Linked DNA regions of Homo sapiens. The protein of the gene in region 1 interacts with the protein of each later gene in a pairwise test. Each region holds a gene or a part of one and is shown on either strand. Other genes may lie near its edges.

Evidence for each region.
Region 2: the proteins of RALBP1 (region 1) and GSE1 interact in binary tests that used the Homo sapiens proteins (3 or more experiments, as listed by UniProt).
Region 3: the proteins of RALBP1 (region 1) and SYCE1 interact in binary tests that used the Homo sapiens proteins (3 or more experiments, as listed by UniProt).

What each region holds. Positions count from the first base shown.
Region 1 is NC_000018.10:9,520,502-9,524,324, forward strand, and holds part of RALBP1 (ralA-binding protein 1), read left to right. Parts: intron 1-1,658; coding exon 1,659-2,008; intron 2,009-3,823. UniProt on the Homo sapiens protein: Multifunctional protein that functions as a downstream effector of RALA and RALB. As a GTPase-activating protein/GAP can inactivate CDC42 and RAC1 by stimulating their GTPase activity.
Region 2 is NC_000016.10:85,651,322-85,654,921, forward strand, and holds part of GSE1 (genetic suppressor element 1), read left to right. Parts: intron 1-2,956; coding exon 2,957-3,129; intron 3,130-3,472; coding exon 3,473-3,600.
Region 3 is NC_000010.11:133,558,819-133,562,641, forward strand, and holds part of SYCE1 (synaptonemal complex central element protein 1), read right to left. Parts: intron 1,336-3,823; coding exon 1,273-1,335; intron 543-1,272; coding exon 483-542; intron 134-482; coding exon 59-133; intron 1-58. UniProt on the Homo sapiens protein: Major component of the transverse central element of synaptonemal complexes (SCS), formed between homologous chromosomes during meiotic prophase. Requires SYCP1 in order to be incorporated into the central element.

The DNA.
Region 1 (3,823 bases):
TAAAGACTTAAAATCTTATGTAATGTTTGCAAATCATTTGCTTTAGTTTCCTTTTGTTCAATAAGCAAAACGATTTTAGAAACCCATACTTTATTTTTTTTGTTCCAGCTCTGTTCAGATTAAGGTTATACTTAAAATAATCCAAACTTTAAAATAGAAATTAGATGGGGATGATTTAATGGAGAATAATTTTCAAAGTGTTTGTTTGGGTAGCTAATTCACCCTTTGCAATTACAGTACAATATTTACACATAAAAAAGTAATTTACCCACAACTTTTTGGAACATACTTAGGTACACCAAGCCACATTTTTTTGTGGTCAGTCTTGTGACTTGTTAGAAAAAGCAGCTGGCTGCCTGTGTAGAGCCAGACTTACACTTGGATTGTAGTTTAATTTTTGTCTTTTTACCTTTTTTTTTATTTTTTTGAGACAGAGTTTCACTTTTCACCCAGGCTGGAATACAGTAGTGTGACCTCGGCTCACTGCAACCTCCACCTCCTGGGTTCAAGCGATTCTCCTGCCTCAGCCTCCTGAGTAGCTGGGAGTACAGGCACCCGCCACAATGCCCAGCTAATTTTTGTATTTTTAGTAGAGACAGGGTTTCACCATGTTGGCCAGGCTGGTCTTGAACTCCCTACCTCAGGTGATCCACCTACCTCGGCCTCCCAAAGTACTGGGATTACAGGTGTGCGCCACTGTGTAATGTTTTTACATTAAAAACAAATTCCTGAATTAATGGGCATATTTGCTTAATATATCCATGGTTGCTTTGACTTCTGACTGTTGAGCTTTTCAATTATCATTTAACTTTTGGTTAAATTCACTTTTGAAGTTAGTTTTTTGGGTTTGTTTTTTGTTTTTTGTTTTTAGATGGAGTCTTGCTCTGTCACCCAAGCTGAAGTGCAGTGGTGTGATCTCGGCTCACTGCAACCTCTGCCTCCCAGGTTCAAGTGATTCTCCTGCCTCAGCCTCCCAAGTAGCTGGGATTACAGGCGCACACCACCACGCCTGGCTAATTTTTGTATTTTTAGTAGAGACAGGTTTTTGCCATGTTAGCCAGGCTGGTGTTGGACTCCTGACCTCAAATAATCCTCCTGCCTTGGCCTCCCAAAGTGCTGGGATTACAGGTGTGATCCATGGTGCCTGGCCTGTTTTTAATTATTTTTTTTATTTTTTGAGACAGTGTCTTACTCTGTTGCCCAGGCTGGAGTCCAGTGGTGCAATTATGGCTCACTGCAGACTCAACCTCCCAGGATCAAGTGATCCTCCCAACTCAGCCTCCCAAAGAACTTGGACCACAGGCGCACGCCACCATGCCCAGCTAATTTTTGTATTTTTTGTAGAGATAGGTTTTGACCATGTTGTCCAGCTAGTCTCGAATTCCTGGGCTCAAGCTATCTGCCCGCCTCAGCCTTCCAAAGTGCTGGGATTATGGGTGTGAGCCACTGCGCCCAGCCAAGTGTAGTCTTACATGTTAGTGTTTACAGAGGAACTGTACGACCTTTGTGCAGATAAATATTTCATAACAAGAGGTTCGTTATTGGTCAGGTTGCTGTTCTCATCTCCTTAGCAAGGGTGGGGATAATGGTAAAGAAAACTTGTGTGTTTGATTTTCTTTTCTCAGTATCTTCTCTCTTCTGAATTTGAATGTTTTAAGGAATTAAATCAAAGGTGGATGAGCTAAAAGCAGCCTATGACCGGGAGGAGTCTACAAACTTGGAAGACTATGAGCCTAACACTGTAGCCAGTTTGCTGAAGCAGTATTTGCGAGACCTTCCAGAGAATTTGCTTACCAAAGAGCTTATGCCCAGATTTGAAGAGGCTTGTGGGAGGACCACGGAGACTGAGAAAGTGCAGGAATTCCAGCGTTTACTCAAAGAACTGCCAGAATGTAACTATCTTCTGATTTCTTGGCTCATTGTGCACATGGACCATGTCATTGCAAAGGAACTGGAAACAAAAATGAATATACAGAACATTTCTATAGTGCTCAGCCCAACTGTGCAGGTACATGGTCTTCTCTACACATATACCCTCTGGTACTGACATTGGGGAACTGGGGTAATTTTCTATTGCTGAGTCACATGTAAAGCAGTGAACTTGAGGAGATAGGTAATGGATTAGCTTGAATACGGGTCTTTTCCTTTCATAATTTGGACAGTGTCAATGTATAAGATAACATACTTGCCCTTTAGCTTGTAGTGATGTAATTTGAATGCGGTACAGTCTTTGATGTGGGTTTATAAACAAGACCTGATGACAAGGATCCTTCATTAGGGGAGGAGGAGCCCATGGCATCTACAGTTATAGAGTTCGTGTGTAGAATTTTAGAGATCCCAGTTATTTAATCAATAGCATTATTGCTTCGTTAGATCACAGACACACATCAAACTCAGGCACAAAGGGACCTGTCATTAATTGTTTGGTCAAAGATTTAGCCTGAGGATTTCATTCATAAGGATGGATCCTAGAGAGACATGTTATAGGCTCTGAATCTGAAAAGGAACTTCAGGGAATTGGGTAGTGTGTTAATTGGTATCTTTTTACGACATACATACTTGGCTTTCCTTTATTGCTGCTCAGTTGGTGCTGTCATAGAGTATATGTTTTCTTTTAATTGCAGTTAATGATATTTTACTCAGGCCAATAAAAAGGGAGATGATAGGTTATATTTATTATCTTAAGCCCTCTTTTTGGCCAGTATTCTGAGTCACCATAAATCACTGTCACTGTTATTAGAGAGTGTTTTCATTTACTAAAGAGCGTTTCAGTCAGGCGCGGTGGCTCACACCTTTAATGCGAGCACTTTAGGAGGCTGTGGCAGGAGGATAGCGAGAGGCCAGGAGTTCAGCCTAGGCAACATAGCAAGACCCTGTCTCTACATAAAAATTAAAAATTAGCTGGGTGTGGTAGCATGTATGTGTAGTCCCAGTTACTTCGGAGGCTGAGGTAGGAGGATTGCTTGAGCCCAGCAGTGAGCTATGATCATGCCACTGTACTCCTCTCTGGGTGACAGAGCAAGATTTTATCTCTAAAAAATAAAGATTCTTCTGTTACTCATTGATTACGCTTTGAAAGCAAAATGTTTCTCAGATTTTAGTTTGATCATTAGGATTTCAGGATCTGGTAAATATTACATTGATACTTAATATTACTATAATATAATAGAGATGGTTGTATCATAGAAGAGTCAAGTGTGTTGTAAGAGTAAGTTTTAGGTAGGAAATAATTTCTTGTAGTAGCTTTTCAGCCAACCTAATGCCCTGGCCTCCTAGCATATGAACATCCATACTTAAATGCTGGCTGTGTCCAGGTATTTGTTTCTGGAGTGAGGGCTTTCAACCTCAACCCAGCTTTACTACTGTGGTGCTCCCACTTCCCTCATGGTCCTCATTCATTCCATTGCGTCTGTTAAAATATGTCAAAGTAAGTTGAAAATAAAGAATATAAGATGTTTTAGCCGGGCATGGTGGCTCACGCCTGTAATCGCAGCACTTTGGGAGGCTGAGGTGGGTAGATCATTTGAGGTCAGCAGTTCGAGCCCAGCCTGGCCAACATGGTGAAACTCCGTCTCTACTGAAAATACAAAAAAATCAGCCAGGTATGGTGGCACACGCCTGTAATCCCAGCTTACCGGGGAGGCTGAGGCAGGAAAATCGCTTGAACCCGTGAGGTGGAGGTTGCAGTGAGCTGAGATTGTGCCACTGCACTCTAGCCTGGGCTACAGAGCGAGGCTCCATCTCAAAAAAGCACCACCACCGCCACCAACAACAAAAAACACACAAAAAATAAGATGTTTAAATCAGTTAATACTGTGATAGA
Region 2 (3,600 bases), on another chromosome or scaffold:
CAGGGTTGGCCGGGCGCCAGCCAGACGGAAGCCACAGACATGTGGGTCTGGCTCGCCGGGCCCCTGCCCCGCCTGCTGGCTGCCCCCCAGCCCCCCGGACTCCCTGTTTGTCCTCAGCCAGGCCAGGAAGGTGCCATCTGGCCTGCGAGCAGGGCTTTGTCCTCGGCTGAGGGGAGAAGGGGTTCAAGGGCCGTGTCTGGGCTGGGGACAGGCCCCTCCTTGTGGCGGGGCGGCTGGGGCCCTGTGCTTTGCCGTTTGACCCGGCCCACGGCGCGGGCAGCATGCGGAGGAGGGCGGCAGGCCTGGGCTGTTGGTAGTTTGACCCTGGGTGCTGTCCTCAGGTCGAGGTCTGTCCTCCAGCCCTCTTCTGACTCTGGCCACCCAAGGCTGGGTGATGATTGAAGCCCCTGGCTGTCGTCTCCCTCCTGCCCTGGAGGCCTCCCCACCAGCCTGGGAGGGGGAGTCCAGGTACCCCGGGTGCCTGAGCAGGCGAGGCCCCTGTTCTGGGCATCCAGAGACCCACTAGCTTTAGGCCTGGTGTTCATTGGGGTGCTACTTGGATGCTGGGGGGCCAGGGGCCACTCCGTCTTGTTAAGTCCATCCCAGACCCTAGGAACAGGGTGTGTCCTTCCTCGTGCTCCGTTCCTCAGATGTTTGGCCCTATGCCAGGCAGGGTAGGGGCGTGAGGCAGGATCTAGAAGCCCAGCCTGGAAATAGCCTCACGGGGCTGGGGTAGGCAGGCCAGCCTGGCAACACACCTGCCATGTCCGGGCCCCCACCCTGCTGGTGCGTCCCCCACATGCCCGTGCACAGCTGTGCCATCAACTCTGCTGCCCTGTGAGTCCCCCGCATGCCCGTTCATAGCCGTGCCATCAACTCTGCTGTCCTCTGAGCAGGTGCCGTGACGGGCACATGCCATTGATGTGTGCACGAGGCACGACAGGATGGCCAGGTCTCCCAAGGTCAGGTTGGCCCCTCGGCCACTCCCCCACTACCCCGGTTGCTGACACCGGCTGGAGACCCCAAGGCCAGGCGCTGGCTCCTCAATAGGAAGTTCCCGGCCCCACGCAGGGCGTCAGTGCCCATGTGTACCTCCCACCCTCGAGACCAGCACCCTGGAGAGGCAGGTCAGAAGTCGTGAACCCAGGAGGACCCTACAGAGAAGGGGGGCCGGGGCTCAGCCCGCGGGAAGGGAGCAGATGCTGCCTCTCATTGAAGATTCCAGGCGGCGGCGGCGGCGGCGGCTCCTCCAGTTAATCCTCGCTGACTGTCTCCTGGAGGGTGGAGAGAGGGGAGGCGCCGGCCCGGGCTGCCTGCACTGCCTCTGCGCGGGTGCCATGTGCTGCTGCCGGGTCACCGTCTGCCGCTATGAAGATGGATGGGCCCAGGAAGAGGGGCTGGCGGGTCAGGGACACAGGCACGGCCCCTGGGAGACAGATGCTTCTCCACGGTGGGGCAGGTCTCAGAGCCCCTGGGCCATCATTCCTGCTGATCTTGTGGGGAGACGGCCATGGCCTCCTTGTTTTTTGGGTGTTTGGCATTTCGTGGCTCAGGGAGGCAGAGCGGGGCTGGTGCTCTTCAGGAGCACTGCCCGCTGATCAGCAGTCGTTACCTGACATGGCCAGATGGAACGTGAGGAAGGGCCGGGTTCCCGTGGCTCTGCATCCCTGGGAAGCTCAGAGGGGCCAGCGTGGCCATGGCTCTCAGACACCCCCAGGTCAGGGTAGGCCTGGGCAGTGCTGTCCCCACATGGGGAAGATGCTGGGGCTGAGAACGGCTGCCCCAGTGACAGAGTGACGCCTGGGTTGGCAGCCATCCAGAGTCCAGAGCACAGCCCCCATCTGGGCCGCCCTGAGGCTCCCTCCGCCCCCCTCCTCCCCCCTCCTCCCCCCTCCCCCTCCTCCTCCTCCTCCCCCCTCCTCCTCCTCCTCCTCCTACCCCCTCCTCCTCCTCCTCCTCCTCCTACCCCCTCCTCCTCCTCCTACCCCCTCCTCCTCCTCCTCCCACTTAGTCACACGAATAACAGGAACAAGCAAGGCCTTTTCATGCTCTGGTTTCTCCGGGCTGGACCCTGCGTGTGTGCGGGGCAGCCTCTGCGTGGCTAGGGGTGGCACGGCCTATCCTTGAACTTGGCAGGGACCTCAGCCCGGAAGGTGGGCTTTGGGCCACTGCCTCCTCCTGCTTTGTGCCTGGAGAAGACCCCTCATCTGAGTCCTCTGGACCACCTTCCCAGCTACACCCAGGTCCACTGTGTCCAGGAGCCTGGGACAGGCGAGCTGTTGCCTTCCCTGCCCCACCGTGTGTGTGAAGGCCGGTACCCCAGCTGGCCAGTCAGGGCCCAGCTGCTGCCTGTTCTGGTGGGCTCCAGGGCCAGGGCCACCCCAGGAGGTGGTTGGGGGCAGACCAGCACCTTCGGCCCAGGGGCAGTGCCAGCTTCCTTTGCCCCTGCCCTCCACGTGGGCACCAGGGCCAGGACATCTGCGGCCAGGTGGGCAGCTGTCGGCGCAGTTGACGTCTTGGCTACATCGTGGCACTCGCTTCACGGCGTGCTGGGTGCCAACGGTGTCTGCTTCCCCGGGTGTGTGTCTGGTGTGACCTTCGGATGTCCACACCAGGAGGGGTGGAGGCAGGAGCCCCTGCCACCCTGCATCCTTCACCTGCACACATTGTGTTTCTGGGGGGTTCTAGTTCTTTTGCTGGACTGAGGAGGCCCAGGGAGGGAGACGGATCCCGAGACGCACTTCACCCCAGACCTGTCGCAGCCACATCCCCTTTCTTACGGTTCTGCTTCCCACACCACATGCACCATGTTTTGCGTAGAAAGCCTTAGGGAAAGGATGTTTCTAGAACATGAACTAAATCTAGCGCCTTCCCGTGAGTCAGGAGACCTGGCTGTGTCCTGTGGTCAGTGGCCTATACCAGGCTCCTGCCCTGACTGGACGCTCTCCTCCCGCAGGATGCCGGCTCCAGGAGCAGCAGTGGAGGTCGGGAACGCCTCATTGTGGAGCCCCCGCTCCCTCAGGAGAAGGCAGGGGGACCAGCCATCCCCTCGCACCTGCTCAGCACCCCCTACCCCTTCGGCCTCTCCCCCAGCTCAGTTGTGCAGGATTCCCGCTTCCCGCCACTCAAGTAAGTTGGTCGGCGGGGACTTCGGTGAGGTGGCCAGGTGGGGACACAGTGCTCAGGGTCTGGGTCCCCAGGCAGCCTGCGGTCTGCACAGATGAGGCTGTGCCTGCTAGATGGTTGTCGGCCGCTGAGCCCTGGGGATTGCAGCCCTGTCTGTGCCCCTTCACACTGAGGTGGCAGTGGCAGCTCGCTCCCCCCGCTGCTTAAGCCCCGTCCTCGTTCGGGGTGCCAGGAGTCTGGGTGCCGACTGAGCGCCAGGGGTGATGCAGGGAGTTTAGCCGTCCCCCCATGCAGGAGCAGGTGTGCACTCACCTGTCCCCACCTTGCCCACTATCCCCGCCTGCAGCCTCCAGCGGCCCGTGCACCACGTGGTGCCCCCCAGTACCGTGACCGAGGACTACCTGAGAAGCTTCCGGCCCTACCACACCACCGACGACCTCCGCATGTCCTCACTGCCTCCCCTCGGCCTGGACC
Region 3 (3,823 bases), on another chromosome or scaffold:
GGGTTAGGGGAGGCTTAAGACACTGTGGGGACCTCTGGGTGACCCCCGGCTCTCTTACGCGAGTCCAGTTCCTTCTGCAGGGCCTCACAGATGGTCCGGGCCTCTCCTAGGTCTTTATTGGCTTTCTTTTTTGCTTCACCAAAGAGCAGAAAAACATTGTGTGAGTGCAGCCTCTATTCTCTTCCCAACAGTGACATTTCTCATTTGCCTTCAGGTAAATCTATAGTGGCCTAGATTTTATAGAGTAGGAAACGAGGCTTCCAGCTCTCCTTGCCAGGCTCTGCTGATAGCAGGGCCAGGATCATGGGCATGTAACTATGGCAGTCGCATGCTGAAATGCCCTGTACTTAATTTAAGGCTCTGCTGTTGCTGTTGTGAATAACCAGTAACTTTGGAACAAGGGACCCTGCATTCTCACTTGGCACTGAGCCCCGCAAACCATGCAGCTGGTCCTAGCTGGCAGCCAAGGCCCCTGAACTCACCTTGCTGGACCTCATTAATCCGGTTAATCAGGACCTCAACTCGGGGCTCTAGGCTTCCCACTGCACGGAGGAAAGGAGGTTGAGTTGACAGGGCAGGCAGAGTTGGGGCGGTTGCCAGCCTTGTGTCTCTGCTGCTTTCACGCAACACAGATCTATTGAGTACCTCCTGCAAGCAGGTGCTCTGTGGGGCCCTCACGGGGCTCACGTTCTGGGTGGGCAAGACTGGGAACAGACACAATAAGATACCGAATGGGGCTGCGGTAACCGTGTTCAAGAGAAATGAAGTAGGCCAAGGGAGGCTAAAGAGCAAAGGAGTGGGAAGTGCTCCTGAGATATGGGAAGGGACCTGAGGGCCCCAAATCAAGTGGTGGGGGGCAGGCCCTGCAGCAATTTGGGTGGGGTTGGGAGGTAGTCAGTGCAAAGACCCATCATGAGGTGGGAACATGGCTGGCAGGAGCCTAGCGAGCAAAGAGGGAGTAGCGGGTGAGGGGGAAGGAAGGGAAGTGAAGGCGGCAACTTCTGGATCTAATGGACTGCAGTGGAGCCAGATGGGTGACCAGCGAGAGGTTTGGGACAGGGTTTTGGGAAAACATTTTGCCTTCTATACCCTTTTGCTTCTTTAATTTTGAAACATGGGGCCCTATTTTTAGTTTAAGTAATTAAGTTTTAAAAGAAAGAGAAGGTGAAGAGGATTATTTCCCAAATTCGTACATTGTGGGGCCTGAAATTAAACCCACATCTGCCTGGCCCCAAACCTCAGGCTGTGCCTCACACAAAGGAGACACACGACCTTTCTGCAGCTTTTGCACCATTTCCATCAAGTCTTCAATTTTCTGTGAGGACGTGTCCTGCCCTGTGGAGACAAAACCAAACATTTCAGAATCAAGCAGGGCGAGAGGCCACCCCTGGGCTGAGACTGAGGCAGGCTGAGGGCAGGTCTCCAGCCAGAGTGGTGCCCCTTCTTCTTGTCCTGAGGTGGACAGTACACTAGATGAATCGGGCTCCTCCATGGTCAGCTTTTCCCTATAAGGTAAAATTATACCAGATATCCTCTTTGTAAAACTCTGGGTGAGGGCAGGGGTGCACTCTCACTGCTGAGGCTGTTCAAAGTAAGATCAAAGCTCCTGATATAATTCAAGAAAAAAAATGAGGGTATAAAAAACTGGAGCAAGGAGTCAAAAATCACTGTAACTGGCAGATGACATAATCTAGGAAGTTCTTAGAGAGTTTTCTACAAAACCATAAGGATTAGTAACAAAATGCATTAAGATGTTAGGTTAAAAACATATATAAATACAAACAAGCTTTCCTACATACAACCAATACTAACCCTGAAATTTCCCCATAAAATATTTCATGTTAATTTTTTATAATCACTATTGGAACCTATTTTTAACACTAAAATTAGTAGATCTAAGAAATTACTATTTATGGCATTAACATTGTGAAAGGAAAATAAATCTTTTTATAAATAAATCTTTGAAAATAAATCAATTCAAAGTCATCCCTCTGCTCACTGAGATAAATGCATATCTGATTTTGTAAAATAAATATCTGAAAATAATTCAGTCATCCTTCTTCTTACTCAGATAAATGCATATCTGATTGCCTCCTTTGGAAAGGCTAATCGGAAACTCAAAAGAATACAACCATTTGTCTTTTATCTACTTATGACCTTGAAGCAAACCCCCCTGCTTCAAGTTGTCTCATCATTGCTTTGAGTTGTCCCACCTTTCCAGATCGAACCAATGTTCATCTTACATATGTTGATTTGTGTCTCATGTCTCCCTAAAAAGCATAAAACCAACCTGTGCTCTGACCACCCTGCCACCCTGGGCACAGGTCATCAGGACCTCCTGAGGCCGTGTCACAGGCATGCATCCCTAACTTTGGTAAAATAAACTTCCTAAATTGACTGAGACCTGTCTCAGATTTTTGGGTTTCACATTTTGGCAACCACAAAGGGATTCTGAGTAGAGGTGCCCCTGACCTTTGACAAATATCCTATCAGTGCTTGCTAGCAGCTTGAGCTATCTTTATGGTTCAAACTAATATGACAAGTTGCTGAGTTCTGGAAGTCCCCCATCCAGGGAATCCCTCATTTCCCAAAATTCGCTCCAGATCCAAAGTTTATTTTTCTAAACAACTCTACTCTTTTTTTGGAGTTTTTCTTGCTTCCAACAAGGAAGGCAAGTTTTCCTGCTTCCATGAAAGTTCCTTTCTGGAGTTTGAACTCGCTCCCAACAGGGAAGACAAGTTTGAGGGTTTTTTTCCTGCTTCTAAGATGATAGAGAGCAGTCTTCAGCCTAAGACCCATCCCTAGGTAAGTAACTGAATTGGGGTTTGTCTTGGCTAAAGGTAAAATTAACAACCAGCTGGTCTTAATTTTTCCTTATCATTAGAGTGTCCAGTAACCATACAAGTTGTGTGATCATTTGTTTGTTTTGCTTAACTGGTATTTTTTTTTGTTGTTGTTTCTTTCTGTTTTTGTTGTTTTGGTCCTTTTCCTATTGGGTTTGGCCAATTCTGACTTGATCAAATCCAAAGGAAAGTTCCAAATTATGTGGAACAAGGCCTCTGAAGTGGCTAAATTCCCACCAGAAAAGGGGTGGTGGGGGAAGAAAAAACAGCCAGCAAAAGGAAAAAAGGGGGGGAAGATTTTTGATTTTGACTACTTAAGGGGATTTATTTACATAACAAGGCCACCTTTTTGCTAGCCAGGCCAAACTGAAAGAGAAAGGATTGTCACCCCAACTGCAGTTCCATAGCTAAGGTTCTGTCTTCTTTTTTCCATGACAGCCTGGGTTTGGTTCCTAAATCAAGACCTTTCTGGTTTGATACTTGGTACTTCTGAAATAGCAGATATTTGTCCTAGCTGAAATATGTTGATGAGATCTTAAAAATTTTTTAAAAAGAAACTCAAATGGTTAAAAGTCATCTTAATTAAAAGCTAACATCCAATGTGTGTGTGTGTGTGTGTGTGTGTGTGTGTGTGTGTGTGTGTGTGTGTGTGTGTATTTAAAAGGGCTTCATGATTTTTCTTTTTTCTCTCTCCTAGGACCTTGTGTTTTTTGGGCAAAAGTTTTTTTTCTTTTCAGTTGACTGAATGCTATTTTCTTCATATAGTTCTGCTGTCTCTCCTTTCCCTTGAACGCTCTGCTGCATGAGGGACCTAAAATAGTTTATAATAGCCTGAGGTTCCTTAAAGAAAATGGAGAAGGCACCAGACTCCCTTTTGTGGAGAAAATTGTTTTTCCTTGTGTATCCCCAAGAGTGTAAACACACAAGTTCATGTCAGCTCCTAAACTGTTTGCTTTTGTATTGTGTTACCTGATTTTTTT